Regions from separate parts of the Homo sapiens genome. Here region 1 is linked to region 2. Evidence: fine-mapped expression QTL. A gene starts in region 2. The other region holds a variant in brackets. All regions are shown on one strand. Distances are between the middles of the regions.

Region 1 (15,557 bases), 44 kb before region 2:
GAGTTCAAGACCAGCCTGGCCAACATGGCAAAACCCCTTCTCTACTGATAATACAAAAAATCAGCCATGCGTGCCTGTAATCCCAGTTGCTTGGGAGGCTGAGGCAGGAGAATCGCTTGAACCAGGTAGTCAGAGGTTGCAGTGAGCCAAGATCGTGCCACTGCACTCCAGCCTGGCAACAGACTCCGTCTCAAAAAAAAAAAAAAAAAAAGAATAACATCTCTTCAGGCCACGTACCCCATGGACCTCTCATGAGATCCTCTGAGCAAGTGGACTATCTTTCCAGAGTCCAGGGATTCCAGGTTGAATACAAAGACTTCCCCAAAAACAACAAGAATGAATTTGTATCTCTTATCCATTGCTCCTCTCAGCCGCCTCTGATCAGCCATAGTGTTATAAGTAAAATGTTTATTCAGAAATAGAATGCTTGTTCCTCGGTACTGCAAGTAAAAATCAGCATTCAGATAATAAGTTTTCTCAGCAAGGCAATTTTACTTTCTGCATAAAGGGTGCTCCTTGCAGATGGAATAATGGCGAGAGCACACCTGAACAAAGGAGGGAAGCAATTTTTATCCCTTATGCAGTTTGTCCTTGCTACTGTGTCCTGTCTCCATTGGCTGAAGCAAGACCTCACAATCTAAATTAAACCTGACTGGCTAATAATTTAAAACTTTCCTAAATAGGTAAAGGCAATAGAGAGCAAAGGAAAAGAGGAAGTTGCTTACAAAAGGACTTAGAAAAGCAATAATATTTCCAAATAAGGAAAGGGCATGGGCTGCGAGCTGGGACATGCCTGTGAGCACATCCAGCACAGATATCTTGGTTAAAGTACAAGGACGTAGAATGTACTATGTGCCTGTGAGCATGTCTAGTACAAATATCTTGGTTAAAGTACAAAGACATAGAATGTACTTATTCTCTTATATCTAACACATAGTATTGGCAAGGATGTTGAGTCCTGCTATGATATGGCTGCACTAAACATCTTTTTCTTTTTCTTTTTTATTTTTCAAGACCGAGTCTCGACCGGGCGCGGTGACTCATGCCTGTAATCCCAGCACTTTGGGAGGCTGAGGCGGGCAGATCACGAGGTCAGGAGATCAAGACCATCCTGGCTAACATGGTGAAACCCCATCTCTACTAAAAATACAAAAAATTAGCCGGACGTGGTGGCGGGCGCCTGTAGTCCCAGCTACTCAGGAGGCTGAGGCAGGAGAATGGCGTGAACCCAGGAGGCAGAGCTTGCAGTGAGCCGAGATCGCGCCACTGCCCTCCAGCCTGGGTGACAGGGCGAGACTCCATCTCAAAAGAAAATAAAAAAAAGACAGAGTCTCGCTCTGTTGCCCAGGCTGGAGTACAGTGGTGCTATCTCAGCTCACTGCAGCCTTTGCCTCCCGGGTTCCAGCAATTCTCCTGCCTCAGCCTCCTGGGTAGCTAAGATTACCGGCATGCGCCACCACACCTGGCTAATTTTTGTACTTTTTAGTAGAGACGGGGTGTCACCATATTGGCCAGGCTGGTCTTGAACTCCTGACCTCAGGCGAACCATCCACCTCGGCCTCCCAAAGTGCTGGGATTGCAAGCGTGAGCCACCGTGCCTGGCCAGCTGCACTGAACACCTTAAAGTTGCTGTCTGAGTTGGACCAACAAAGTACAGAGATGCCAAGAACAGGAAATGGATCAATGTCTGTGTGTGGGAGGTGCTGAACCTTTTCTGGCCATGAACCATTATAAAATCCCAACATATACACTGAAAATATTAAAACTGCTTTGAAAATTTGGAATTTCTGATACCTCTAGTGGGCCGAGAGACGGTGGGTAAAGGATGTGGGCAGCAGCAGGGAACACAACAGGGGAGGTGGCTGTGGCCGGGCTGGACTGTGCTGGGGTTTGTTGTGACGGCCACTCGGTGACCTGGCTGTCCCTACGCAATACCAGCTGCCTTTGGGGAAGAAGGGCTGCCCAGCCAGCTGGCTCTCCTGGGGCACCAGCAGATCCACGCCCTGGGCACCTTCCTGTTTGGTCTTTTTTTTCCCGTGTGAAAGAAGAAACTGAAAGCATGACCCCTTCTCAAGCTGGCTTAGTTGGGACAAACCCTGGACAGCCACACCAGAGAGAGGCCTTCAACCAGCCCCAGAGCTAAAAGCACCAGAGAAAGTCAAATGCTTCCTATTCAGCATGACCTAACTTCTAGTGTGCCACGGCCCCACCACTTCCTGCAGTGCCCACACCATCACCACTGCTTTCTCTTCCAACAGTGATCTGTATTCTTAGTTTCATTATTTCCTTTTTATTGGTATGACACTATATAAAATTTTCCTCCTTCCTGCCTTCCTTCCTTCTTTCTTTCTTTCTTTTTCTTTCTTTCTTTCTTTCAAGACAAAGTCTCACTCTGTCACCCAGGCTGGAGTGCAACGGCACAGTCTTGGCTCCCTGCAACTTCTGCCTCCCAGGTTCAAGCAATTGTCTGCCTCAGCCTCCCGAGTAGCTGGGCCACCACACCCAGCTAGTTTTTGTACTTTTAATAGAGACGGGGTTTCACCATCTTGGCCAGGCTGGTCTTGAACTCCTGACCTCGTGATCCACCCGCCTCGGCCTCCCAAAGTGCTGGGATTACTGGCATGAGCCACCGTGCCCGACGACACTATATAAAATTTTCATTTGAGAGTTTCTCAACTGTATCTAATTATATCGCACAGTTTGGAAACTTTTCTGAGACTGACTTTATCAATAATCTAACCGACAAAGATCATATCCACGTGTATGTAGTTAGACATTTTTATTTCATTGACTAACCCAGCACCATTTCAGTGATGCAAATTACGTGCCCTATGGTTCAGCTGAAACAGTCCTGGACTTTCAAAAACCTTGAATAAGTCTCCCACAGTTGTATAAATTGGACAATTTAGGAATTTTAAACTTTAGATGATCATTTGCTTCCATTTTTATTTTATTTTTATTTTTGTTAATGCAAACAGGACTTAAACAAATGAACTTTGATCTCCATTTTAAATATTCTTTAAGAAAATCATGTGTCTATACATACGGCTCTTGAGGACTTAGCTTTCACTACACTACAGGATATGATCTCCACATAGTTCACATAAAACTGCAGACTGATTTTCCAGAGTGCTCGATACTATTAATTACATCTCGATTAGGGCTGAAAAGTATGACCTATGTTTCTTTATACAGTTGTGTTGCTTTTGATGTTGTGTTACTATACACAGAAGTGTGTGCACTGGGCCGGGTGCGGTGGCTCACGCCTGTAATCCCAGCACTTTGGGAGACCGAGGGGGGTGCGGATTGCCTGAGCTCAGGAGTTCGCAACCAGCCTGGACAACACGGTGAAACACCATCTCTACTAAAATACAAAAAAATTAGGCTGGGCGTGGTGGCTCACGCTTGTAATCCCAGCACTTTGGGAGGCCGAGGCGGGCAGATCACGAGGTCAGGAGATCGAGACCATCCTAGCTAACACGGTGAAACCCCGTCTCTACTAAAAATAAAAAAAATTAGCCGGGCGAGGTGGCGGGCGCCTGTAGTCCCAGCTACTCGGGAGGCTGAGGCTGAAGAATGGCGTGAACCCGGGAGGCGGAGTTTGCAGTGAGCCGAGATCGCGCCACTGCACTCCAGCCTCGGTGACAGAGTGAGACTCTGTCTCAAAAAAAAAAAAAAAAAAAAATATATATATATACAAAAAATTAGCAGGGCGTGGCAGCATTCGCCTGTAGTCCCAGCTACTCAGGAGGCTGAGGCAGGAGAATCGCTTGAACTCGGGAGGCAGAGGTTGCAGTGAGCCGAGAACATGCCACTGCACTCCAGCCTGGGTCACAAAGCGAGATTCCGTCTCAAAAAAATAAAAATGAAAAAAGAAGTGTGTGCACTGAGGCTCTGTGTGTGGTCCATATGGAAAGCCTGGTACCCCTGCGAGTTAAGTACTGCCTCCATTCATCGTTTACACTGGAGTTTTTCTCCTCATGGAATGCGAGTAAAACTTAGTGTTTGTCACCAATAAATGGTAATACAAAAAAGAGAGAGAGAGAGAGAGAGAAAAGCTTTGAGGACCCAGGAAAAATGGTGGCAGCCTCTGGAAAGGGCCTGAAAGAACTCGGGACAGGGGTGGAAGGGAAACTTAAGTTTACTATCCACTTTTCCAGTCGTTTTGGTTTCCTATACCATGAGCACATGTCACCCATTCAAAAAAAATTGAATCAATTATAAAAATTCATTAGTTTACTGCATGACACAAAGAGTGAATCCTAATGTAAACTATGGAGTTTAGATAATGGAGGAAAGGTATCAGCCAGGTGAAGTGGCTCATGCCCGTAATCCCAGCACTTTGGGAGGCCAAGATGGGAGGATCACTTGAACCAAGGAATTTGAGACCAGCCTGTGCAACATAGTGAGACTCCGTCTCTACTAAAAAACAAAAAAATCAGGCCAGGCATGGTGGCTCATGCCTGTAATCCCAGCACTTTGGGAGGCTGAGGAGGGAGGATCACTTGAGGTCAGGAATTTAAGACCAACCTGGGCAACATGATGAAACCCTGTCTCTACCAAGAAAAAAAGAAATAGCTGGGCATGGTGGTGGATGCCTGTAGCCCCAGCTACTTGGGAGGCTGAGGCAGAGGTTGCAATGAGCCAAAATCTTGCCACTGCACTCCAGCCTGGGGGACAGAGTGAGACTCTATCTCAAAAACTAAAATTAATTTAATTTAATTTAATGTTCACTTTTGACTTCAACAGGCCTGGGTTCAAATCTCAGCTCTCCTATTCCCTAGGTTAGCAGCCTTGGGTGAACCCAGTCCCTGCCATCAGCCTCCCTTTGCCAATCTGTGAAATGGGTTGATAATAACAGGACCTACCCCCTAAGGTTTTTGGGACGGCTCAGTGAAATGAGGCATGGAAAGGCCTTGTCACGTAGCTCACAAAATGTTAGCCATGATGACTACTCCTATTATTGCTATTTGATAGAAGTGAGAGCAATTCAAAGGTGACACCCTCAGAATGTTGTGGGCGGCTGGCATGTCCACTCCCTATCTACACCGGCCCCCGATCTCATCCAGCAGGCCCGCCTTGGTAGAGGTGGCCCTGCCCTGCCAGGGCCCGCATTATCTGGTGGTGGTGAAAGCCAGCGACTGGCTCCGTGTCCCGGCCCACGCCCAGGTCGCGCTGGTTTGTCAGGTTGGCCCAGCCGTTCACCCACTGAGGACTTGTTATACAAGGTGTGTGGGCTCCCAAGAAGGAGTGGAGGGCACGGACCCAGGCCGACGCCAGGTACGAGATACATGCCTCTTCTTGAACTGCAGGGGCTGGGACCAGCCAGGAGCCTGATGGAAGAGCACCCCAACGCTGGCCCCATCACCCCAAATCCCAGCCCTCCTTTTCACTCCAAGCCTGTAGTCAAGGCAGCCTGCCCCCGTCCCCACTGATTCATGGTGCCACCTTGGCTTCCTCAACATCAGAGGGCTGGCTTACCCCAGAGACTCACATATTCCCCCAAAGTGCCAGACCCCAGAAGGCTGGAGCTGAGAGGGGACTTCTAAGTTGTTTTGTTGTTGTTGTTGTTTGTTTGTTTTGTTTTTTAGACATGGTCTTGCTGTGTCCTTCAGGCTGGAGTGCAGTGGTGTGATCTTGGCTCACTGCAACCTCCCCGTCCTGGGCTTGAGTGATCCTCCCACCTCAGCATCCTGAGTAGCTGGGACTACAGGCGCCTGCCACCATGCTCAGCTAATTTTTTTTTAATTTTTTTGTTAAAAAAAATTAATATAGTGCTGGGCGCGGTGGCTCATGCCTGTAATCATGCCTGTAATCTCAGCACTTTGGGAGGAGGGAGGATCACCTGAGGTCGGGAGTTCGAGACCAGCCTGACCAACATGGAGAAACCCCATCTCTACTAAAAATACAAAATTAGCCAGGCATGGTGGCACATGCCTGTAGTCTCAGCTACTCAGGAGGCTGAGGCAAGAGAACAGCTTGAACCCGGGAGGCAGGGGTTGCAGTGAGCCAAGATCACGCCATTACACTCCAGCCTGGGCAACAAGAGCAAAACTCCATCTCAAAAAAAAAAAAAAAAATATATATATATATATATATATGGTATCCCTATATTCCCCAGGCTGGTCTCAAAGTCCTGGGCTCAAACCATCCTCCAGCCTTAGCCTCCCAAAGTGCTGGGATTACAGGCATGAGCCACCACACTCAGCCTGGCTTCTAGGTCTTCAGTCTCCACTCAGCACTCTAAATTTCTAAGGTTCTGAGAAAGAGCTTCAGAGTCATTTATGACTAATGAGGGCAGGGCCAAGTTGGCAAATGTGGTAAAGGAGACAGTCCTATCGCAGCTTTGATCATATTCAAACCTTTTGCTAATAATTTCCTTGGCCCAAAGGGGATCCTGGCAGAAAAAGAAGTTTTAAAACCACTAATAATCTAGACCATTGCAGGGTTGTAATTGTTTCTGCCCACCATCCCAAGTGTGGCCACACCTGGACATGAGCCTCAGAAAAGATTCTATAAAGGTCTGCCTCTTTGCTGTGCGACCTCGGGTGAGTGTCTGCACCTCTCTGAGCCTCAATTTCTTCATCCATTAAGACAGAAGCCCTATTTACCCACCTCATGGGGCTGCAATCTTCCAGGCACATAGTAAGCCTTTGATCAATGATATCTCTCATTACCGTTGGTGCTGCCATCACGTTCATTATTGTGACCTGGCCATCTGGGGTTTGGAGAATCAGGTCCAAGTTTTATCAACAAGGAGAGATGAGTCAGGCGCAGTGGCTCATGCCTGTAATCCCAGCACTTTGGGAGGCTGAGGCGGGTGGATCACTTGAGCCCAAGAGTTCAAGACCAGCCTGGGCAACATGGTGAAACCCCATCCCTACCAAAAATACAAAAAGTAGACAGGAGTGGTGGTGCATGCCTGTAGTCCTCCATACTCAGGAGGCTGAGGTAGGAGGATTGCTTGAACCCAGGAGATCGAGGCTGCAGTGAGCTATGATTATGCCACTGCACTCCTGCCTGGGTGACAAAGTGAGACCCTGTCTCAACAACAACAACAAAAAAAGAAAGAAAGAAAGAAAGAGAGAGAGACAGAGAAAAGAAAGAAAGAAAGAAAGAAAGAAGGAAGGAAAGAAAGAAAGGAAGGAAGGAAGGAAGGAAGGAAGGAAGGAAGGAAGGAAGGAAGGAAGGAGAGATGGGTCCCATTCCCTGAATGCCTCTCAAGTCATCCAAGCCCCTCTGCAGATACCAACCTGGGTCACCGCCAGACACCAGGCCAGAGTTAATGTTACTGTTCAGAAACCCAAGCTGGGCCATTTGGTGATGCCGGGGACATCGGAAAGTGGACTGAGGCTTTGGGGTCAAACAGGGCTTGTTTTTTCAAATCCCAGCTCTCCCACTGGGCACTGGGTATCCACAGGCACAGGCTTCTTCTCTCTGGCCCTCAGTTTCCGTGCCTGTAAAATGAGGGTGGTAGGGAAGATTTGGGGAGGTTCCTTCTCTTTGGGGTTTGGAGTTACACAAGAAGGAGTTTGATGCTGCCAGCCCTGGCTGGGCACAGCTCCAGGACCTAGAAATAAGGGGTGGAGCAAGGGGCACAGGGTAGGAGGAATTTCGGGTACGCAGCCAGCCCTGGCCATCTCCTTTGCCTACAGGGCGGTGAGACTCACAATGAGTGCATGAATGAGCTGTGAGCGGGCAGATGAACCAGGAGAGATGCCCTGAGCCTAGGCCTCTCCAGCCTGCGACTCCCCAGGTGGCCAGCCTCGGCCAACTTGCATACCCAGGCTGGGCCAGGCCCCTGGGAGGCCAGAAAACATCTTCCTTCCAGCATCTATCAGACGAAGATCACCTGGGACCAACCCCAGGACCTCACACAACCCTCAGAGCCAACTCTCGGGGCCAGAAGAACACCGTCTTTTCATAGAGGGGCTCTGCGTCTGGCATGGATGGGCAGAGGGTTCCTGATAGCAGTTG[A/G]ACCACAAGCCTAACCCCATCGGTTGAATGTACTACAACCTCCCCGTCAAGACAACGTGCAGTGGTGAAATCTCAGGGCGAATCCCCATTCAGCCCCAAAGAGGCGTCCCAGGGCGGGGCTTGAACCCATCTGGGATGTCCTGACTACCAGAGGGGTCTTTTGGAGGCCCCCTGCCCATCACAGATACCCAGAGAAAAGGATGCGCCTAGGACTCCGAGGCGCACACAGAAAAAAAAAAAAAGAAAACAACTCACAAATGCAGCAAACGTCGGGGACACACCCACGTGCCCCTCTCCCCACGAGTGCCCCGGGCATGCAGCCCCGTCCTGGGTCCTGGGGGGGTCCCCGTGGCCGGCTGCGCCCCGCCCGCCGCCGCGCGCAGACCTTCGCCCTTGCCCCGCCAGCACCGAACCGCGCGAGCCTCGGGTTCCAGCGCAGCGCCGCGGCCGCGCTCAGGTTACAGCCCTCACCACGCGCGCACTCACCCGCGGGTCTCAGCCTCCTGCCCTCGATCCGGATCCACCGGCGCCACTACCTGGGATCTGACCGCGCCGTCCCACGGCCCAACCCTTTAACCCCGCCCGGCCGTGCCGAGGGGTCCGCCCCCGGACATCCCGCCCCGGGCTCCCGCAGGGTTCTGGGCGGGGACTCCAGCGCTGCCCCCTAGAAAAGGAGAGAACAAGAAATAGGCGTGTGGAGGGGTGGAGAGCGATGGAAAGAGAGAGAGACTGAGACTGAGATGGAGAGATGAAGAGAGACAGAGACTTGGACACCTAGAAGTCCCAAACCATCAGGCTCCCCGCCCTCCTGCCACTGCTGGGCCGCATTAGCGCCCAAGTCCCGCTCTGGACCACACTCCTCCCACACCAACACCCCCCATGGCCCTTACTTCCAGGTTTGCTCCCAAGCTTGGACAGCGATCTCTAAACCATCACCCCCTGGGGCCCCACTGACCCCCCCGAGAAGCCTCCTCTGGGGCCCTCAGGAATTCTCTGGCTCCACCAGCCCTTGGGAACCAGCCCTTCCCCTCTCTCTGGATCCTGGGCCTAAGCTTCCCCGGCACCCACCCCTGGAGGCTCTGCAGCCTCTTCCTCCAGGAAGACCTCCAACCTCAACAAGCAGCACCAGACTGGTTCTGCTCCCCGCCAACCCGCCCTCCGCCACTCCTCCCCACCCACTGCCAGACACCTTGACCCTCTGACCAGGATGTTGTCCTTGGCCAACCCGTCTACTCCAGATGTGTGGAGACAGAGTCAGCTCCGCCTCTGGATGTGTCTGTCCTCCGGAGTCGGTGGGTGGATGTGTGGCTGACCTTAGCACGTGGGCAGACAGATGAGAAGACAAGAATCTCCACTTGCCCCAGCAGGTGGTAAACTTAGAAGACTTCCTTATCCCTCTTTTTTCTAAGAATACGCTCTCATTTGGTGCTGGGCCCTTGGAAAGAGGGCGTGGGAGGTGTGGGGCATGTCTCCTGGTGAAGAAGAGGAGACACAAGTAATTGAAGTTTTGCTGCTTGGAGGAGGCAGACATGAGGTCAGGGAAGGCGACGTGGAGGATGTGACACTTGAGCTGGGACTGCATGGAGAGGTTGGATTTCAACAAGTGCAGGAGAGGGGGTAGAGCTCAAGCACAGAGAAACTGGAGGGTGTGACTTAGCAGATGGCTTTCCCTGGCCTTGGAGTGTGAGAGGTGTGGAGGCTGGAGGGATGCAGGAGTTGACTGTGAAGGCCAGTTTGAATGGCTGGATCTTGATCTGGTGGGCAGTGGGGAGCCATGGATGGTGCTTGAGTAGGGGAGGTGCCCCCTGTTAGTTGATTGGTCTCACTCTGTCATCCAGGCTGGGGTGACTCCTGGGCTCAAGCCATCCTCCTGCCTCAGCCTCCTGGGTAGTTGGGACTACAGACACGTGCCACCACACCCAGCTAATTTTTTTTTTTCATTTTTTTAGAGACAGGGTCTCACTATGTTGCCCAGGCTGGTCTCAAACTCCTGGGCTCAAGCCATTCTCCCAGCTCCTAGAACTTTTAAAAAAAAATATTTATATTTATTTGTGTCTTTAATCTTTTTTACTTCTGAGGAAGAGCTTATTTTATTAATTTTTTATTCATAATTAACGCAGCATGAAAGCCTATTTTTTAGGGATATGAATTTTGTTTTGCCAGTAATTCTGGCCAAGGGGGAGCTTACTAGAAGCACTTTGGAAAATGCAGAGATCCACATAGAGTGAAGTTTGAGAGGGACCCCTCCAGTGGCTGCAGGGGACAGAGACAAAGGGTGGGGGTAGCTGAGACCCAGGAAGGGGTTAAGGATGAGGTCCCGGAGGTCATCTCCACTGACCACTGGCTAAATACGGGGTTCTAGGGAAGAGAGAAGGAAAAGAAGCCATCTGCCTGGCTTCTCTGCTCTCAAAGAGCTGGAGACCAGGAAGGAGGAGTAAGTGAAAGGGCCTGGAGCACTAAGAGTGGGCTTCGTGGATGTGTGGCCTTGAGCTAGTCACATGGCTGCTCTGAGCCTCCATCTCCCTATGCATAAAATGCAGAAGAAGCCCATGTGATGAGGTGGTGTTCAGCCCCACTCCTGGCACAGGGCACAGGCTGGACAAACATCAGCTGTTTGAGTTTGCAGTTGATTGGGGCCATCCCAGCAGAGTAGAGTTTTCCGCCAGGGAATGTTTAGCAACATCAGGAGATCATACTGCTGGGTGGGGGGTAGAGGTGGGGGTGGGGGAATTCAGGGTGGTGCAACTGACATCTAGTGGGTGAAGGCCAGAGATATTATTCAACATCCAGAACACCCCCACCCCCAAAGAATAATCCAGGCTCAAATGTTGACAGTGCTAAGATTGGGAAACCGTGGGTCACCTTCAGTCTAAAAGTCTCGTGGGTCTCATGGGATGACATTCAGGGAGACATCCAGGAGGCAGTTGGGCTCAGCGTGAGGGCACCTCCTGAGAATTGCATCTGTGAGTCACCTGCCTTGGGAAGACGGTGGATGGCATGGCAGTAGGTCAGCGAGATCACTCAGGAGGGAGGTGGGCAGAGAAGAGGAGGGGAGGGCAGAAGTGGGGATCACAGCCACTTTTTTTTTTTTTTTAAGATGGAGTCTCACTCTGTTGCTCTGTTGTCCAGGCTGGATACAGTGGCACAATCTTGGCTCACTGTAACCTCCGCCTCCCGGGGTCAAGCGATTCTCCTGCCTCAGCCTCCCGAGTAGCTGAGACTACAGGTGCCCACCACCAAGCCCGGCTAATTTTTGTATTTTTAGTAGAGACGGGGTTTCGCCGTATTGGCCAGGCTGGTCTCAAACTCCTGACCTCAAGTGATCCACCTGCCTTGGCCTCCCAAAGTGCTGGGATTACAGGCATGAGCTGCCGTGCCTGGCCTTTTATTTTATTTTTTAATCAAACAGAGTCTTGCTCTGTCACCCAGGCTAGAGTGCAGTGGTGCTATCTTGGCTGACTGCAACCTCCACCTCCCGGGTTCAAGCAATTCTCCTGCCTCAGCCTCCTGAGTAGCTGGGATTACAGGCTTGCACCACCACGCCCGGCTAATTTTTGTATTTTTAGTAGAGACAGGGTTTTGCCATTTTGGCCAGGCTGGTCTCAAACTCCTGACCTCAGAGATAATAGCTACATTTATAGAGAGGACAGGCAGCAGCACTGAGCTGGAGCTGGAGATGGAGTTTGAGAAGAGTGGTAGTAGGGACCATCACTGGCACCTAGACGTCAAGGAACCCAAGCTCTAGAGCTGTGTGGTTCCCATGCCACCAGAGCCCTCAGCCTGCCACAGCCCAGGGCTCAGTGGGGTGAGGTTGAAGTGGGAGGGGAGGAAGTGGAGGCTGTGGCTGGACTTGGGAAATGGTAGTAGAAAGCTGTCTGGGAGTGGATGTGGCAGGTCATGGCAGGGAGTCAAAGATAAAAAGAAGAGGGATCTCGCCATACCCTGCTGGTGGCAACGTAAAATGGTTCAGCCACAGTGGAAAACAGTTTGGGAATTTCTCAAAAAGCTAATCAGAATTACCATAGGACCCAGATATTCCACTCCTAGGTATACACACACAATAACTGAAAACAAGTACTTGCCAGGTACAGTGGTCTACAGCTGTCATCTCAGCACTTTGGGAGGCTGAGGCAAGAGAGCATCACTTAAGCCCAGGAGTTCCAGACTAGCCTGGGGAACAACATAGCAAGACTTCATTTCTACAAAATATAAAAAATTAGCTGGACATGATGTGCGTACCTATAGTCCCAGCTACTTGGGAGGCTGAGGTGGGAGGATAGACAGCTTGAGACTGGGAGGCTGAGATTGCAGTCAGCTGAGATTGTACCACTTCACGCCAGCCTGGCTACAGAATGAGACCCTGTCTCAAAAAAAAAGAAAAAGAAAGAAAGAAGAGACAGAGAGAGAGAGAGAGAGAGAGAGAGAGAGAGAGAGATAAAGAGAAAGAAAGAGAAAAGAAAACAGTTACTCACACGTAATTGTAGAGGAGTGCTCGGGATAGCACGATTTATTATAGCCAAAGGTGGAAACAACCCAAATTCCACCAACAGATGAATGGATAAACAAACTGTGGTCCATCCATACAATGGAATATTACTCAGTCATAAAAAAGAATAAAGGCCGGGCGAGGTGGCTCTTGCCTGTAATCCCAGCACTTTGGGAGGCCGAGGCAGGTGGATCACCTGAGGTCAGGAGGTTGAGCCAGCCTGGCCAACATGGTGAGACCCTGTCTCTACTAAAAATACAAAAATTATCTGGGCACGGTGGCGGGCACCTGTAATCCCAGCTACTCGGGAGGCTGAGGCAGGAGAATCGCTTGAACCCGGAAGGCAAAGATTGCAGTGAGCCAAGATCGCACCACTGCACTCCAGCCTGGGGGACAGAGTGAGACTCCGTCTGAAAAAAAAAATACAAATAAAAATAAATAAAACCCTGATCCATGCCGCAATGTGGATGAGCCTCATAAACATTGTGCTGAGTGAAAGAAACCAGACACAAAAGGTCACACAGTGCATTATTACATTTATATGAAATATTCAGACTAAGTGAATTCACAGAGACAGAAAGTGGAGTAGTTGTTGCCAGGGGCTGGGGGAGGGGGGATGGAGAGAGAAGCCCATACCCAGGGGGAGTGGTTATAGGACCTCCTTTTGGGGTGACAAAAACACTGGAACTAGATAAAGGTGATAGTTGCACAACATTGTGAATGCACTAAATGTCACTGAATTCTACACTTTAAAGGGTTAATTTTATGTTATGTGAATTTCACCTCAATTTTTTTTTTTTTTTTTTTTTTTTTTTGAGACAGAGTCTCACCTGTTGCCCAGGCTGGAGTGCAGTGGTGCGATCTCAACTCACTGCAAACTCCGGCTCCTGGGTTCAAACAATTCTCGTGCCTCAGCCTCTCAAGTAGCTGGGATTACAGGCCTGTGACACACAGCCAGCTAATTTTTTTATATTTTTAGTAGAGACGGGGTTTTGCCATGTTCGCCAGGCTGGTCTCAAACTCCTGGCCTCAAGTGATCCTCCCTCTTCAGCCTCCCAAAGTGCTGGGATTACAGGCATGAGCCACTGTGCCCGGCCTCACCTCAATTAAAATAAATACTTTATATATATATATATTATATATATATAATAATTATATATATATAATATATAATAATTATTATATATAATATATATAATAATTATATATATAATTATTATTATTGGGAGGTCGAGGCAGGAGGATTGCTTCAGTCCAGGAGTTCAAGACCAGCCTGAGCAACATAGCCAGACCCCATCTCTAAAAAAAATAATTTTTTGTAAAAATTATAAAAAATAACAAATTAGGCATAGTGGTACATGCCTGTAGTCCCAGCTACTCAGGAGGCTGAGGTGGGACGATTGCTTGAGCTCAGGAGTTTGAGGTTTCAGTGAGCTACAATTGCACCACTTCACTCCAGTCTGAGCAACAGAGTGAGACCCTGTCTCTAAAAACAAAAGAGGGCCAGGCGCGGTGGCTTATGCCTGTAATCCTAGTACTTTGGGAGGCCGAGGCGGGCAGATCTCCTGAGCTCAGGAATTCGAGACCAGCCTCGTCAACATGGTGAAACCCTGTCTCTACTAAAAATACAAAAATTAGCCGGGCATGGGGGCTCACGCCTGTAGTCCCAGCTATTCGGGAGGCTGAGGAAGGAGAATCACTTGAACCCGGGAGGCAGAGGTTGTAGTGAGCCAAGATCGTGCCACCGCACTCCAGCCTGAGTGACAGAGTGAGACTCCATCTCAAAAAAAATAAAAATAAAAAAGAACTCGGCAGGAAACAGACCGAACACTTAAGTGGAGTAATTTGTAGAGAGTTTAATAAAAAGCACTATTTTCAAAGGGATAGTGCAGCACACCAGGGGCTGGTAACAGCTGAAATTAGTTACCACCCCTAGGACCTGGGGCCAAGGAACTAAAGTTGCTAGAACCTGGACCAGACAGGGCTATGCAAAGAGGTCCACCTGTCAAGAGTTCTGAACCTCCGGTGGAGGGACACAGCCAGCCTGCATGGAAAGAAGATGAGTTACAAATAACCTAACCTCACTTTCCTCCCTCCCTCCAATGCCTGCTATGGCTCCCTGCTGTTTCAACCCAACTGGAAGCCACAAGACAAAGGAGCTCATTGAGTGGTCCATATACATCAGCCTCCTGGGACACAAAAACAGTGAGGCAGAAAAGTGGAAACAGAACAGGTGATATCAGAGATTTCAAACAAAGAAAGCAACACAGCTGGGCATGGTAGTTCATGCCTGTAATCCCAGCACTTTGGGAGGCCAAGGCAGGCAGATCACCCGAGGTCAGGAGTTCGAGACCAGCCTGGCTAACATGGTGAAACCCCGTTTCTACTAAAAATACCAAAAAATTAGCTGGGCATGGTGGCACGCACCTGTAATCCCAGCTACTTGGGAGGCTGAGGCAGGAGAATTGCTTGAACCTGGGAGGTGGAGGTTGCAGTGAGCCAAAATCATGCCATTGCACTCCAGCTTGGGCAACAAGAGCAAAACTCCGAAAAAAAAAAAAAAGAAAAAAAGAGAGAGAGCGAGAGAAAGGAAGGAAGGAAGGAAGGAAGGAAGGAAGGAAGGAAGGAAGGAAGGAAGGAAGGAAAGCAATTCAAAGGTGAGAGGCAAGTGGGGTGTTAAATGGCCCCTTTTAACATGTGCTGGCCACTTTCCTTCTCCCCATCCACACACAAGCCACTTGGGACCATTTTTGCCAAACCCATCAAAGACCATCTCTCCAACTTTAAATCCTTTGCACATGCTCTTCTCTCTGCTTGGAATTATCTTCCTCTCACCCACCCAACTAACTCCTACTTAAGGCCATTTTTTCTGAGGGCTTCCCCAGTCACTGGGCTTAGTTCCAGCCCATACTCAATGCAGCCACAGCCCCTGAGTGTCCTCGCTCCCAGTAAAATTGCTCTTGGAATGATTTTTTTGTTTTGTTTTTGTTTTGTTTTGTTTTGTTGAGATAGAATTTTGCTCTTGCTGCCCAGGCTGCAGTGCAATGCGCGGTCTTGGCTCACTGCAACCTCCACCTCCCGAGTTCAAGTGATT
Region 2 (15,557 bases):
TGCTTAGAATTGCTTTTGCTATTTGGGCTCATTTTTGGTTCCTTGCGAATTTCAGGATAGTTTTGTCTAATTCTGTGAAAAATGACTTTGATATTTTGATAGAGATTGCATTGAATCTGTAGATTGCTTTGGGAAATCTGATTTCTCTTTTTCTAGAAAATGAGGTCTCACTATGTTGCCCAGGCTGGTCTTGAACTCCTGGGCTCAAGCAATCCACCCACCTCGCCTCCCAAAGTGTGGGATTGATTACAGGAGTGAGCCACCATGCCTGCCCCCACCTCCAATTTTTTTTTGGGGGGGACAGAGTCTTGCTCTGTCACCCAGGCTGGTGTGCAATAGCACAATCTCGGCTCACTGCAACCTCCACCTCCCAGGCTCAAGCAAGTTGTCTCATGCCTCAGCTTCCCAAGTAGCTGGGATTACAGGCATGTGCCACCATGCCTGGTTGATTTTTGTATTTTTAGTAGAGACCGGGTTTCACCATGTTGGCCAGGCTGGTCTCAAACTCCTGACCTCAAGTGATCCACCCACCTCGTCCTCCCAAACTGCTGGGACTACAGGTGAGACCCACTACGTCCGGCCCACCCCCAATTTTTTTTAATAAAAATAAAATAGATTTAGTTGAGTATAGTTAGTTGGTCCCCAGGGAGGACCAATGTGGGGTGAGACTGGACCCTTTCCAAATCTGAGAGGAGGCTGAGGGATGGTCTGTATGTGCGCTTTAATGCGGGTGGAGGAACAGGCAGAGAAACAGTTCCTGACCCCAGCCTTCAACCCCCTTGCCTGTAGGATGCCCGGCCATCCACCCCCGCTGCCGCTGGGGAGCGGCGCCTTATCGGGGCCGCCCGAAGCTGCTGCAGCTGCCGCTGGGATTCTTGTACGTGCATCACACCTACGTGCCTGCACCACCCTGCACGGACTTCACGCGCTGCGCAGCCAACATGCGCTCCATGCAGCGCTACCACCAGGACACGCAAGGCTGGGGAGACATCGGCTACAGGTAGGAGGGGCCCGACCGGGGAGGGGGCGGGGCCCACGTTCGGGGATGGGGTCTGAGTGGGCGGAGCCTGATGCAGGGGACCGGGCTTGAACCCGAGGAAAGCTGGCAAGACCAAGGAGGAGTCCTGATAGGTAGAGCAAAGTTGGAGAGGTGGCGTGGCTTAGGCTAGGGGCGGGGCCTTAATAGGGACCGGGAATAGCTAAATCATGGGACTCCAGTCAGGGTAGAGAACTAGTACAGGAGGCGGGATCTGGGAGAGGAGCGGGACCTGTGGCAGAGTCTGGGTCTGGGGCCAGGCAGAGATGGCCTAAAACAGACAAGGAGGCCTGGTGCGGTGGCTCCCGCCTGTAATCTCACCACTTTGGGAGGCTGAGAAGAGAGGATCGCTGGAGCCCAGGAGTTCGAGACCAGCCTGAGCAATATAGGAAGACACCCCCCCACACCACCCATCTCTACAAACAAAAAAAACTTAAAAAGGCCAGGCGCAGTGGCTCACGCCTGTAATCCCAGCACTTTGGGAGGCCGAGGCGGGAGGATCACGAGGTCAGAAGATTGAGACCATCCTGGCTAACACGGTGAAACCCCGTCTCTACTAAAAAATACAAAAAAATTAGCCAGGCGTGATGGCGGGTGCCTGTAGTCCCAGCTACTTGGGAGGCTGAGGCAGGAGAATGGCGTGAACCCGGAAGGCGGAGCCTGCAGTGAGCCGAGATCGCGCCATTGCACTCCAGCCTGGGCGACAGAGCGAGACTCCGTCTCAAAAAAAAAAAAAAAAAAAAAAAAAAAGCTGGGCATGGTGTTGCGCGCCTGTAGTCCCAGCTACTCGGCAGGCTAAGGTGGGAGGATCGCTGGAGCCCAGGAGTTCGAGGCTTGAGTGAGTTATGATCGCATCTCTGCACTCTAGCCTGAGTGACAGAGCGAGAACCCGTCTCGAAAAGAAGAAGGAGGCCGGGAGCGGTGGCTAACGCCTGTAATCCCAGCACTTTGGGAGGCTGAGGCGGGTGGATCACCTGAGGTCGGGAGTTCCAGACCAGCCTGGCCAACATGGAGAAACCCCGTCTCTACTAAAAATACAAAATTAGCCGGGCGTGGTGGTGCATGCCTGTAATCCCAGCTAGTCGGGAGGCTGAGACGGGAGAATCACTTGAACCTGGGAAGCGGAGGTTGCAGTGAGCCGAGATCGCGTCGTTGCACTCCAGCCTGGGCTACAAGAGCGAAACTCCGTCTCCAAAAGGGAAGGGAAGGGAAGGGAAGAAGGGAGGGGTGGCGAGGGGAGGGGAGAAGGCTGGGCACAGTGGCTCACGCCTGTAATCCCAGCACTTTGGGAGGCCGAGGAGGGCAGATAACCTGAGGTCAGGAGTTCGAGACCAGCCTGGCCAACATGGCGAAACACCGTCTCTACTAAAAATAAAAATTAAAAAAAAAATTAGATGGGCGTGGTGGCGGGTGCCTGTAATCCCAGCTACTCCGGAGGCTGAGGCAGGAGAATCGCTTGAACCCGGGAGGTGGAGGTGGCAGTGAGCCGAGATCGCGCCCTTGCACTTCAGCCTCAGCGACAAGAGTGAAACTCCATCAAAAAAAGAAAGAAAGAAAGAAGGAAGGAAGGAAGGAAGGAAGGAAGGAAGGAAGGAAGGAAGGAAGGAAGGAAAGAAAAAAAACCCAAAAACAGAAAAGCTCTCTGAATTGGGCAAGAACTGGGCTTGAGAAAAGGCAGAGGTGGGGAGGAGAAGGGCAGAAAGGGGCGTGCCAGTACTGAAGGGCGGATCCAGAGAAACCGAACGGTCCTGGAGTGGCAGCTGGTGTGAGAGTGGAACAGAGCTGGATGGGACACAGGCAGCGCGACCGCGCGGGTCTTGGGGTCGGTGGCCCTTGGCACACCAACAGAATCGGGGAGGGGAGCGGATAAGGGCCCGGGTCCCCCTCACGCCGCATGGTGCTTGCTTCTCCCTCCCCTCTGCAGTTTCGTGGTGGGCTCGGACGGCTACGTGTACGAGGGACGCGGCTGGCACTGGGTGGGCGCCCACACGCTCGGCCACAACTCCCGGGGCTTCGGCGTGGCCATAGTGGGCAACTACACCGCGGCGCTGCCCACCGAGGCCGCTCTGCGCACGGTGCGCGACACGCTCCCGAGTTGTGCGGTGCGCGCCGGCCTCCTGCGGCCAGACTACGCGCTGCTGGGCCACCGCCAGCTGGTGCGCACCGACTGCCCCGGCGACGCGCTCTTCGACCTGCTGCGCACCTGGCCGCACTTCACCGCGGTGAGTCTTCGCAGCCTGCACTACACGGCCCGCCGCCCCTCCGTCTACACAAGCTCCACGAGGCCCCTGCCCCCTGCCTGTAACAGCTGTGCCCGCACAGCCTCAGCCAGGCCCCCAACTTCCCGGCGGCACGTCTATTCAGGAAACCTAGGCCCAGCCTTTGCGGGTCACTCTGCGGGCAACATCCCTGATCCTGTGACTTCTGCCTATGCAGCCTCAGCTCAGCCCCAGACCCAGCCAGCCTGTCCTTTCCCCAGCTCCTAATACCTCTACCTTTCCAGCCAAGGCATGGACCCTGACACCTGCCAACAGCCCCTCTGCCCTCACAACCTCAGCCTGGCCTTCATGACTTCTCTACCCAAGTCACAACCTGTCAGGCTGCACCACCTCATCCTGGCCCGCCGAACCTTGACCTCACCCCTGCCCCTACCCGAAGGCCCTCTGTCCACACAACATGAACCTAGGCTGTGACCTTTTGCCTTCACAACCTCTGTCCAGTCCTTAATCCTGTGTTGCAATTCTCTGTCCAGACAATCTCAACTCTGAGGTTGCTTGTTTCGTCCCTGACTCCTTAACCCCTGATGACAACTCTTATGCCAGCACAACTTTGACCTGATGACCTCATCCCAGCCCTTGATCGCCATCACTAAAACAATTTTAGAATCACACCTGGACAATCTCGTGCTACCTACATACTGCCACTCCATTTCATTAAGCTATTGACTAGCACATCCATCTCGGCCTATAGTTGGCTTTGTCCTCACTCTCTCACTTTGGGCCACTGTCCCCTCCCTGATCCAGGGTTCCACCACCAGGAGGGCAGACCCAGCCACATACCACAACCACCCCCAAGCCTCACACTCCCTTGTCTTTTTCCAGACTGTTAAGCCAAGACCTGCCAGGAGTGTCTCTAAGAGATCCAGGAGGGAGCCACCCCCAAGGACCCTGCCAGCCACAGACCTCCAATAAAGACAGCATGGAAACAAAGTCTCTGTTCATGCATCATCATGCATTGTCTTAGTTTGGGTCTTCCCAAAAGCAGACCTTAAGACAATAATTCCAGTACAAGTAGTTTATTGAGAGGAGATCCCAGGGCAGGGCACGGCAGCTCACATCTGTAATCCCAGCACTTTGGGAGGCTGAGGCGAGGGGATCACCTGAGCTCAGGAGTTCGAAAACAACCTGGGCAATAGAGTGAAATCTCATCTCTGCAAAAAAAAATTTTCAAATTATCCAGGCATAGCCAGGCACGGTGGCTCATGCCTGTAATCCCAGCATTTTGGGATGCTGAGGAGGGTGGATCGCCTGAGCTCAGGAGTTCAAGACCAGCCTGGCCAACATGACAAAACCCCGTCTCTAACAAAAATACAAAAAATTAGCCAGGAGTGGTGCCACACACTTGAGGTAGGAGGATCACTTGGGCCTAGGAGGCAGAGGTTGCCGTGAGCTGAAATCACACCACTGCACTCCAGCCTGGGAGACAGAGCAAGACCCTGTCTCAAAAAAAGAAAAAATTATCCAGGTACAATGTTGTGTGCCTGCAGTCCCAGCTACTCCGGAGGCTGAGGTGGGAGGATTGCTTGGGCTGGGAGGTCGAGGCTGCAGTGAACCATGATTGCGTCACTGTACAGCAGCCTGGAGAAGAGAGTGAGAGCTTGTCTCAAAGAAAAAAAAAGAAAGAAAGGAAGAAAGAAAGAACGAAAGAAAGAGGAAAGAAGGGAGAAAGGGAGGAAGGGAGGAAGGAAGGAAGGAAGGAAGGAAGGAAGGAAGGAAGGAAGGAAGGAAGGAAGGAAAAAAAAAAAAAGAAAAAGAAAAAATAGAGAGGTGAACAACCCAGGTACCGATGCAGGGAACTGGAGGCAGCCAGGGAATAATGTGTTTTCAAGCAAGTTTCCACTGTAGGCAAGAGAGCTCAGTCTCACTTCGAAGCCCTGAGGGAGAGCATAGGACACATACCTGAGTCATCCCACACAAGGGTTGAGGGAGCTGGGGTATTTATACACTAATTCCCACCAGTTATTATGTGAGGGCTGCTCTCAGGGACATGTTAATTCACTGGCACTTTTGGAATGCTTGTTACACAGACATAGTGGACTCCATCTGCTAGATACAAATGGCTGCAAATGTCACCTCCTCAGGGAAGTCCTCCCTGATTTTTCCAGCTCAAAGAGTGGCATTTTTGCTCAGCATTCACTGCAGCCTATTTCCTTCTAGGTCCTCCTTACCAGCTAGAAATGTCTCATGTATGAGTTTAGGATCTTATCTACCTCCATCATCTGTGAGCTCCAGGAAGGCAGAAACCAAGTTTGGTTAGTTCTCTGCGGCCTCTCCAGCACCTAGCATGTAATAGGCACTCGGGAAACATTTGTTGACTAGACAAAGGCTTACATGAATCTTTTGAAACTGATATTATCGTCTTGTACAAATAAGGAAAACGAGGCTCAGAGAGAGGAAATGACTTGTCTGAGGTCACACAGAGGGAGAGGGGCCAGCTGGTACTCGGCTCCTGGACCGGATTTATGCTGACTCATTTATTCCTCAGAATGGCATTTACTTACCTCTGGCTTTCAAGTAAACATCTGTGGAAGCCTAACAGAGATACAAGAAAGTGCTCCCAAGGGCACAGCTTGATGAATTTTCACAACAGCACACAGCCATGTAACCAGGACCCAGCTCAAGAAATAGAACATGTTAAGCCAAGCGTGGTGGCACACATCTGCAGTCCCAGCCACTACAGAGGCTGAAGCAGGAGGACTGCCTGAGCCCAGGAGTAGGAGACCAGCCTGGGCAACATAGTGAGACCCTGTCTCTTTACAAAAAAAAAAAAATTAAAATTAGCCAGGCATGGTGGCATGCACCTGCAGTCCCAGCTACTCAGGAGGCTGAGGCAGGAGGATTGCCTGAGCCCAGGAATTCAAGGTTGCAGTGACCCACAATCATGCCTGGGAATAGCCACTGTACTCCTGCCTGGGTGACAGAACAAGGCTTCGTCTCTCTGGGCACAGAGGCTGATGCTATTCCTGTATTCCCAGCACTTTGGGAGGCTGAGGCATGAGGATTGCTTGAGCCCAGGAGTTCAAGACAAGCATGGGCAACATAGTGAGGCCCCATCTCTACAAAAAACAAACAAACAAAAAGTTAAAAATTAGTCAGGTAGCATGCACCTGTAGTCCCAGCTACTCGAGAGCCTGAGGTAGGAGGATCGCTTGAGCCCAGGAGGTTGAGAATGCAGTGAGCTGTGATTGTGCCACTGCACTCCAGCTTGGCCAACAGAGCAAGACCCTGTCTCAAAAAAAAATCTTATTAAAAAAAAAAGAACATGCTAAATTTGTGTTATATGAATTTTACCTCAATTAAAAAAAAAATAGGCCAGGCATGGTAGCATGTGCCTATTATCCCAGCTACTTAGGGGGCTGAGGTGGGAGGATCACTTGAGGCCAGGAGTTCAAGAACAGCCTGGGCAACAAAGCAAGACCCTCATCTCAACAACAACAAAAAAATTGTTTTTAATAAGCCAGGTGTGGTGGCATGCAGCTGTAGTCCCAGCTACTCAGGAGGCTAAGGCGAGAGGATCTCTTGAGCCCAGGAGTTAGAGGTTACAGAGAGCTATGATGGCACCACTGCACTCCAGCCTGGATGACAGACCTCATCTACAAAAAATAATAATATTCATATTATGTATAATGTAATATTATTTATATTACTATGTAATATAAATATTATATTTTTATTTTATGAGATCTATATTATTTTTATAGACCTCATTTATAAATAATAATAATAATAAGGGCCGGGCACGGTGGCTTACGCCTATAATACCAGCACTTTGGGAGGCCAAGGCGGGCAGATCATTTCAGGTCAGGAGTTCAAGACCAGCCTGACCAACATGGTGAAACCCCGTCTCTACTAAAAATACAAAAAAATTAGGCAGGCATGGTGGTGAATACCTGTAGTCCCAGCTACTCAGGAGGCTGAGTAGGGAGAATCACTTGAATCCGGGAGGCAGAGATTGCAGTGAGCCAAGATCGTGCCACTGCACACCAGCCTGGGAGACAGAGCGAAACTCCTTCTCGATAAATAAATCAATTAATAATAATAAGAGTAATAATAAATCTTGCCATCTTCCAGAAGCCCCCCTTGTACCCTCTTCCCAGCCACCAGTGCCTCCAAAAGAAACTGATACCCTGCTTGTTAGACATGGTTTTGCCTGCTTTAGGACTTTATGTAAATGGAATCACAAAGTGTATACTCTTCATTGTTTTGGGGTTTTTAAATTTATTTATTATTGCTTTTTAGAGATGGGGTCTCCCGAGGGCAGGGAGGGGAAAAAGAAAAAAAAAAGTTAGATATGAGGTCTCCCTATGTCACCCAGACTGGAGTGCACTGCCTATTCACAGGCATGATCACAGCTCACTGCAGCCTCGAACTCCTGGCCTCAAGCGATCCTCCTCCCTCAGCCTCCTGAATAGCTCAGATTACTGGCATTTTATGGCTTTGGTTTTGGTTTTGGCTCAACATTGTTTGTGATTCACCCAAGTTAAATCATTCTTTAGTTTGTTCTCACTGCTGTATGATATTCTGCTGTGCGAAGAGATCACAATTTATTCCTTCTCCCACTAATGGGTACTTAGGCTGCTTCCAATGTGGGGCTATTATGCATTGTGCTGGGGGGGCATATCTATTGGACGTCTACCTAGCAATGGAATTGCTGAGTCAGAGAAGATCCAGCTAGTAGTGTTAGTAGATCCTGCCAAACCGTTTCCCAACATGAGTGAATGGGTCTACACTCCGGCCAACTGTGGATTAGAGTTCTAGGTGCTTTGTATTCTCGCCAGCATTTGTTCAGCCTGTACTCATTTTGCAGAGAAGGCAACGGAGGCTCAGAGAGAGGGGCAAGTGCTGCCTCCCCGTCAGGGAGGCAGTCTGGGTCCTTCTTGCTAGAAGCCTGGTAACCCACCTCCTCTCTTCTCCTCCCTCGAACCTCCAGCAACCTGCCCGCACTGTGCCCTCCCAGCCTGGCTGTGGGGTGGGGTGGGACAGAGAGGGTCACGTGGAGTTGGGTTCCGAGGGAGGAAGCCAGGCGGGGTGCAGACGGCTGCTGATTCTGGGGCTGGTCAGGAAACCAAGGTAAGGGAGGGAGTGGAGGTGGGGGCAGGGGGATTCCTGGAGGCAGAGCTGAGGGTGGGGAGGGGGCCGAGATGAGGGCAGTATGTGGACAGACACTGGGCACTACTGTCACTCTCTCGTCCCCCAGGAGACCCCCCCCCCCAACCATGGACCCACCGTCGCCAAGCCGGACCTCCCAAACCCAGCCCACAGCCACCTCTCCGCTGACTTCCTACCGCTGGCACACAGGGGGCGGTGGGGAGAAGGCGGCTGGAGGGTTCCGCTGGGGCCGCTTTGCTGGCTGGGGCAGGGCCCTGAGCCACCAGGAGCCCATGGTCAGCACCCAGCCAGCCCCTCGCTCGATATTCCGTCGGGTCCTATCTGCGCCTCCCAAGGAGTCACGGACCAGTCGCCTTCGACTCTCCAAGGCCCTCTGGGGGAGGCATAAGAACCCACCGCCGGAGCCAGACCCGGAGCCGGAGCAGGAGGCCCCAGGTACATGGTTCCCCCACCCTGAGCTTGGGCCGGGCTGGGAAGCCGGATGCTTGGGTTTTGTCTGCCTCCGGAGCATCAACCATACAGACACAGGAAGTTGTGGGGAGTGCAAAAGCCCAGCAGGAAGCCGCTGGGGCCCAGCTACCCTGTTCCCTCTTTCCCCCTAAAGAGGGTAGGAGGAGTTGCCGGGGTCCTGTGGGCAGAGGGTCCATCTGAGGAAGGAACAGTGAATGTAAACCCGTGATAGTATTGTCCAGAGGCTAAACGGCTCTTGGCCCCAACGGGTCTCTCCTTCAATGGCTCAGGCCCATCCTTTCCTACCTGGATATCCATCTTCAGCCTGCCTCCTACTCTCCTACCTTCTAGCTTCCGTGTCTTTGTTCTGAGCCCTTAAGCCTCAGCCTCTCCATCAGTTCAGTGAGAATAATGATCTCCATTTTGGAGAGTATATAATTTTATTTGCTCATATTCATTCATTTATTCAAGCAGAGGTTTGTTGAGCTTCTATTGTATGTGCCAGGCCCTGATTTAGGCACTGAGGACACACTAGTGAAAGAGACAGATGACCCTCCCTGCCCCATGGAGCTCACAGTGTAGTGGAATTGACAGGAAATCCATCAACAAGAAAATGACAGATGGGCCAGGCATGATGGCTCACACCTGTAATCCCAGCACTTTGGGAGGCCAAGGTGGGTGGATCACCTGAGCTCAGGAGTTCGAGACCAGCCTGGCCAACATGGCAAAACCCTGTTTCTACTAAAAATACAAAAAAAAAAAAGTATCTAGGCATGGTGGCACATACCTGTACTCCCAGCTACTCAGGAGGCTGAGGCAGGATAATCGCTTGAACCCGGGAGGTGGAGGTTGCAGTGAGCTGAGATTGCACTACTGCACTCCCGCCTGGGCGACAGAGGGAGACTCCATCTCAATGGAAGAAAAAAAAAAAAAAGAAAGAAAAAAAATGACAGATGGTGCTAAGTGTCACACAGGGGGATCTAGAAGAGTAATGGATATCACAAGAATTAGGGCTCAGGAATGTAACACTAGCCTAGGGCCCAGCATTTTTTTTATTTTTTTTTTGAGATGGAGTCTCGCTCTGTTGCCCAGGCTGGAGTGCAGTGGCGCGATCTCGGCTCACCGCAAGCTCCGCCTCCTGGGTTCACGCCATTCTCCTGCCTCAGCCTCCTGAGCAGCTGGGACTACAGGAACCCGCCACCATGCCCAGCTAATTGTTGTATTTCTAGTAGAGACAGGGTTTCACTGTGTTAACCAGAATGGTCTCGATCTCCTGACCTCATGATCCGCCCGCCTCAGCCTCCCAAAGTGCTGGGATTACAGGCGTGAGCCACCGCGCCCGGCCCCAGGCCCAACATATTTTAAGTGATCCGTTAATAAGCGGGAGTTATCATTTATTGCTCCTGGTGGTAAAAACAAGGGAACAGACAGGCAATCTGGGAGGGCTAATTCAGCCCTCCTATTTCCTGGAAGCTCATTTAATTCTCACTGCTTATATTCCCATTTTGTTTTTGTTTTTGTTTTTGTTTTGAGACACAGTCTCACTTCCTTGCCCAGGCTGGAGTGCAGTGGCGGAATCTCAGCTCACTGCAACCTCTGCCTCCCAAGTTCAAGAGATTCTCCTGCCTCAGCCTCCTGAGTAACTGGGATTACAGGCATGTGCCACCACGCCTGGCTAATTTTGTATTTTTAGTAGAGACGGGGTTTCTCCATGTTGGTCAGGCTGGTTTTGAACTCCCAGCCTCAGATGATCCACCCGCCTAGGCCTCCCAAAGTGCTAGGATTACAGGTGTGAGCCACAGAGCCCAGGCACATCAGGCTATTTTTTAAAGACAGGGTCTTGTTATGTTGCCCAGGCTGGTCTCAAACTCCTGGTCTCAAGCAATCTGCCCCACCTCGGCCTCCCAAATGTTGGGATTACAGGCATGAGCCACCTTGCCCAGCCCCTGTCCTGTTTTTTAACCTCTTGGACCCACATAATGTCTTGGTTAAGAGAAGAATGCAAAAAAAACAAAAAAACAAAAAAAGAGAGAGAGAGAAGAATGCTTGTGACTGAAGCCCAGCCCAACCACTCACAAACTGTGTGACCCTGAGCAAGTCACTCAACCTCTCTGAGCCTGTTATCATAGCCCTTTGAATGGCTTTTGGAGGATTCAATGCAAGAAGGTGTGTGGAGTGGTATACAGGGTACTGGGCACATGGTAGGTGAGTTGTGTCTGCTACCCATGGTTAGTGGGGACAAGGCCCAGACAGCGATGAAAGCTTGCCCAAGGTCATACAGTCTGATACGGCTGCTGGGGTGGGGGGCACCTAGGAGGGAACCCACCATGAGCCTTCGGGAATGGAAAGGGTAGCCTGAGGGAGAGAAAACGTCTCTTAAGTCCCCCAGTGCCTCCTCTTCTTCCCAGAGCTGGAGCCGGAGCCAGAGCTGGAGCCCCCTACCCCACAGATCCCTGAGGCCCCCACACCCAACGTGCCTGTCTGGGACATTGGGGGCTTCACCCTGCTTGATGGGAAGCTGGTGCTGCTTGGAGGAGAGGAGGAGGTGAGAGGGGGCACCTGGGAAAGGGGAGGAGGGAAGAAAGAAAAAGGAGGAGGGCAGAACAGAGGCAGGGGCTGGAGGGAGGATAATGGGAAGGTGTCTGCCTCTCCCTCGGTCTGCCTGCCTGCCTGCCTGCCTGCCTCCCCTCTCTGACTACCCACTCCTGCGGGAGAACAGGGTCCTCGAAGGCCCCGGGTGGGAAGTGCTAGCTCCGAGGGCAGCATCCACGTGGCCATGGGGAACTTCAGGGATCCAGGTAAGCTTGAGGGGTGGAAAGGCCTGGGGCATTTGGGAGGCTCTAAAAGTGGGGCAGAATCCAACCCCCCAACCTGCCACCCATAACGACCCACAGATCGGATGCCTGGAAAAACAGAACCGGAGACTGCTGGTCCCAACCAGGTCCACAACGTTCGGGTAAGGCAGCCAGTGAAGGTGGGAGGTAGAGGGGAGAGCCAAGACTCTCGGACCCTCAAAGCTGAAAGGGCACTCTTGCTGGGTGATCTGGAGCAGGTTGCTGACCCTCTTTGGGCCTCAGAGTCCCAGTCTGTCAAATGAAGCTAATGAAATAACCTTTCTCTAGGGGTTGTTTATGGGAAGCCAATAGAGAGTGCAGGAGCCAGGCAGGGCAGTGCGCAGCTATAGTCCAAGCTACTCGGGAGGCTGAGCAGAGAGCACTGCTTGAGGCCAGGAGTTCAACACCAGCCTAAGCAACATGGGGAGACTTCATCTCTTAAATAAATAAATGAATAGTATAGGAGAATATATGATTGATGCTTTACAAATGGGAGTTTGGGCCAGGCACAGTGGTTCACACCTGTAATCCCAACATTTTGGGAGGCTGAAGCAGAAGGATTGCTTGAGACCAGGAGTTCAAGACCAGCCTGGGCAACATAGCAAGTCCCCAATTCTACATGGTAACATTCACCTGTAGTCCCAGCTGAGGCAAGAGGATCACTTGAGCCCAGAAATTTGAGGCTGCAGTGAGCCATGATCGCACCACTGTACTCCAGCCTGGGCGACAGCACGAGACCCTGTCTTAAAAAAACAAATGAACAAAGAATTAGGAGCTGCTGATTGCTCTTATTATTCCTGCTAATACAGCCTGAGCTTGGTGTTGGTCCTCCAAGACCAGTAGATCCTCTGGGATGTCTTGGGAGGGAAGGAGCTGAGGAAGGAGCACAGATTTCTGTCCAGCTGACATTCCCTTCCCCACAGGGGTTGCTCAAGAGGCTGAAAGAGAAGAAAAAGGCCAGGTTGGAGCCCCGGGATGGGTAAGGGTGTATGAGAGGCTGGAGGGGCTGGGGTTCAACACTGGCCCCTCCTCCTCCACCTCCTGCATATCATTCCAATCTACACCAAACACCCCCTGTGGCCTCTGTGTTCTGCCCCACATCAGTTGATGCTGGGGACATTGAATGATCTAGCACAGAGCCAGGGTGGGGGCAAAGTCTGACACAATAACTCTAAAATGGGAGCTAAGTCAATCAACTGGTCTGGGAGGGTTAGGGAAGGTACCCTTGAGCTGAGATCTGAAGGGTGGATGGAAGTTAACTAGGCCAACAGGGGGGTGGAAAAAGCATTCCAGGCAGAAGGAACAACAAGTGCAAAGGCCAAGAGGCCGAAAGAAGCAACTAAAACAAGGCCAAGAGGGCTGGGTGAAGTGGCTCCCAGCACTTTGGGAGGCCAAAGTGGGCAGACTGCTTGAGTCTAGGAGTTCGAGACCAGCCTGGGCAACATAGTGAGACCCCATTTCTACAAAAAATACAAAAATTAGCTAGGCATGGTGGCGGGCACCTGTAGTCCCACCTACTGGGGAGGCTGAGTGGGAGGATTGCTTGAGCCTGGGAAGTTGAGGCTGCAGTGCACAGAGATCATGCCACTGCACTCCAGCCTGGGCAACAGAGCAAGATTGTGTCTCAAAAATAAATAGGGCTGGGTGCGGTGGCTCACACCTGTAATCCCACAGTTTGGGAGGCAGAGGCAGGTGGAACATTTGAGGTCAGGAGTTCAAGACCAGCCTGGCCAACGTGGTGAAATCCCATCTCTACTTAAAATACAAAATTAGCCAGGCATGGTGGCGAATGCCTGTAATCCCAGTTACTCAGGAGGCTGAGGCAGAAGAATCGCTTAAACCTGGGAGGTGGACATTGCAGTGAGCCAAGATTGTGCCACTGCACTCCTGCCTGGGCAAAAGGGCAAGACTCCATCTCAATAAATAAATAAATAAATAAATAGGGCTGGGCACGGTGGCTCACACCTGTAATCCCACACTTTGGTGAGGCTGAGGCGGGTGGATCACTTGGGATCAGGAGTTCAAGACCAGCCTGGCCAACATGGTGAAACCCCACCTCTACTAAAAATATAAAAATTAGAAAATTAGCCAGGCATGGTGGTGGGCACCTGTGATCCCAGCTACTTGGGAGGCTGAGGAAGGAAAATCACTTGAACCTGGAAGGCAGAGGTTGCAGTGAGCTGAGATCCAGCCACCGCACTAAACAAGACTCTGTCTCAAATAAATAAATAAATAAATAAATAGGATAAAATAAAACAAGGCCAGGGAGGCTGGAGCTCAGAAAGTGATGGATTAGGTGGAGGGAGATGAGGTGACAACATCTGGACCCAGCTTGGTCATGTAGGTCACCAGGAGTTGAGTTTATCCTAAAAGCAAGGAGGTGCCATGGCGGGGGGTGGGGGGGGCACGGGGGAGAAACGGGATCCGAATTGGGTTGAAGTCCTTCCTGGCCTTCCTCTACCCTTCAGGCTATGGGGGATGGGGAAGAGGCAGGAATGACGGTGTGCTCACCCACCCCCTTCCCAGACCCCCCAGTGCTCTGGGCTCTAGGGAGTCGCTGGCCACACTCTCTGAACTGGACCTGGGTGCCGAGCGGGATGTGCGGATCTGGCCACTGCACCCCAGCCTCCTGGGGGAGCCCCACTGCTTTCAGGTAAGTGTAGACAGTCCACCTCGATTCCACCTCAGTCCCACCTCCCACCCTTTGGCTTCACCCTTGGCCTCGATCACACCGTTGGATTCTCCATCCCAACAGGTAACCTGGACGGGTGGAAGCCGCTGCTTCTCTTGTCGCTCGGCCGCTGAGAGAGACCGCTGGATCGAGGACCTTCGTCGCCAATTCCAGCCCACCCAGGTCATTGCCCTCAGAAAAGCGGGACACGGAGACCCCGCCCACAGGCCTGGCCCGCCCCTTCCACTCTACCCAAAGCCAGCTCGCTCCATAACCCGCGCCCCCAACACACCTGCCCCGCCTGCATCGTTGCAACGGCTCCAAGACTCCCCTTCCATCTATTACCAGCCCCGGGAATATCAGACCCGCCCCTTCTGTCCACTCCCGGCCCCATATGCACCCAAAGCCCTGCCTGCCAGGCAATCGCGAAGTCTTTACTCCAGTACTACTCTTGTATGCCCTGGAGCCCCCAACTCTCCCGGAGAGCCCAGAAAAGCTAGAAGACTTCCGCGTAACCGCCTCCGGACTCCCGTGGCTCCACTTCTTTCCCCAAAGGCCCAGCAATCTCCCTAGGGACCCGACGCAACAGGTTTGAGGCTCCACGCTTCACTTGCGGTGCCTTCTTTGGGGTGCCAACAAACCAAAACGCTTCCCCCCATCCCACTCCCATCTGCAGGACAACGTGGAGCGGGAAGAGACATGGCTGAGCGTGTGGGTGCACGAAGCGAAGGGGCTTCCCCGAGCAGCGGCGGGGGCACCCGGCGTGCGCGCCGAGCTGTGGCTGGATGGCGCGCTGCTGGCACGCACGGCGCCTCGGGCCGGCCCAGGCCAGCTCTTCTGGGCCGAGCGCTTCCACTTCGAGGCGCTGCCACCGGCACGTCGCCTGTCGCTGCGGCTGCGCGGCTTGGGCCCGGGAAGCGCGGTGCTGGGCCGCGTGGCCCTGGCGCTGGAGGAGCTGGACGCCCCACGCGCGCCTGCCGCCGGTCTGGAGCGCTGGTTCCCGCTGCTCGGGGCGCCGGCGGGCGCAGCGCTGCGGGCGCGGATTCGGGCGCGTCGCCTGCGCGTGCTGCCGTCCGAGCGCTACAAGGAGCTGGCGGAGTTCCTCACCTTCCACTATGCGCGCCTCTGCGGGGCCCTGGAGCCCGCGCTGCCTGCGCAGGCCAAGGAGGAGCTGGCGG

What was found. PIP is the estimated chance that this variant, and not a neighbour inherited with it, causes the effect.
Region 1: its variant is fine-mapped to the expression of RASAL3 in whole blood (INTERVAL, PIP above 0.99).

What each region holds. Positions count from the first base shown.
Region 1 is chr19:15,501,490-15,517,046 of GRCh38, reverse strand. CYP4F22 (cytochrome P450 family 4 subfamily F member 22) reads right to left here and starts at 8,522. Exons shown (of 14, transcript NM_173483.4): 1 at 8,464-8,522. It also overlaps the pseudogene LOC100422106. RefSeq lists an enhancer at 8,378-8,878. The variant A/G (reference allele first, on the strand shown) is at 7,978.
Region 2 is chr19:15,457,333-15,472,889 of GRCh38, reverse strand. RASAL3 (RAS protein activator like 3) reads left to right here and starts at 8,346. Exons shown (of 18, transcript NM_022904.3): 1 at 8,346-8,385; 2 at 8,513-8,859; 3 at 11,283-11,419; 4 at 11,594-11,672; 5 at 11,769-11,830; 6 at 12,632-12,687; 7 at 14,235-14,361; 8 at 14,464-14,562; 9 at 15,056-15,557. The coding sequence starts at 8,532. It overlaps PGLYRP2 (peptidoglycan recognition protein 2), which reads left to right. Exons shown (of 5, transcript NM_052890.4): 3 at 790-1,000; 4 at 2,961-3,258; 5 at 4,138-4,245. The coding sequence ends at 4,227. RefSeq lists enhancers at 2,855-2,904, 2,915-3,004, 8,003-8,112, 8,753-8,882, 8,983-9,122.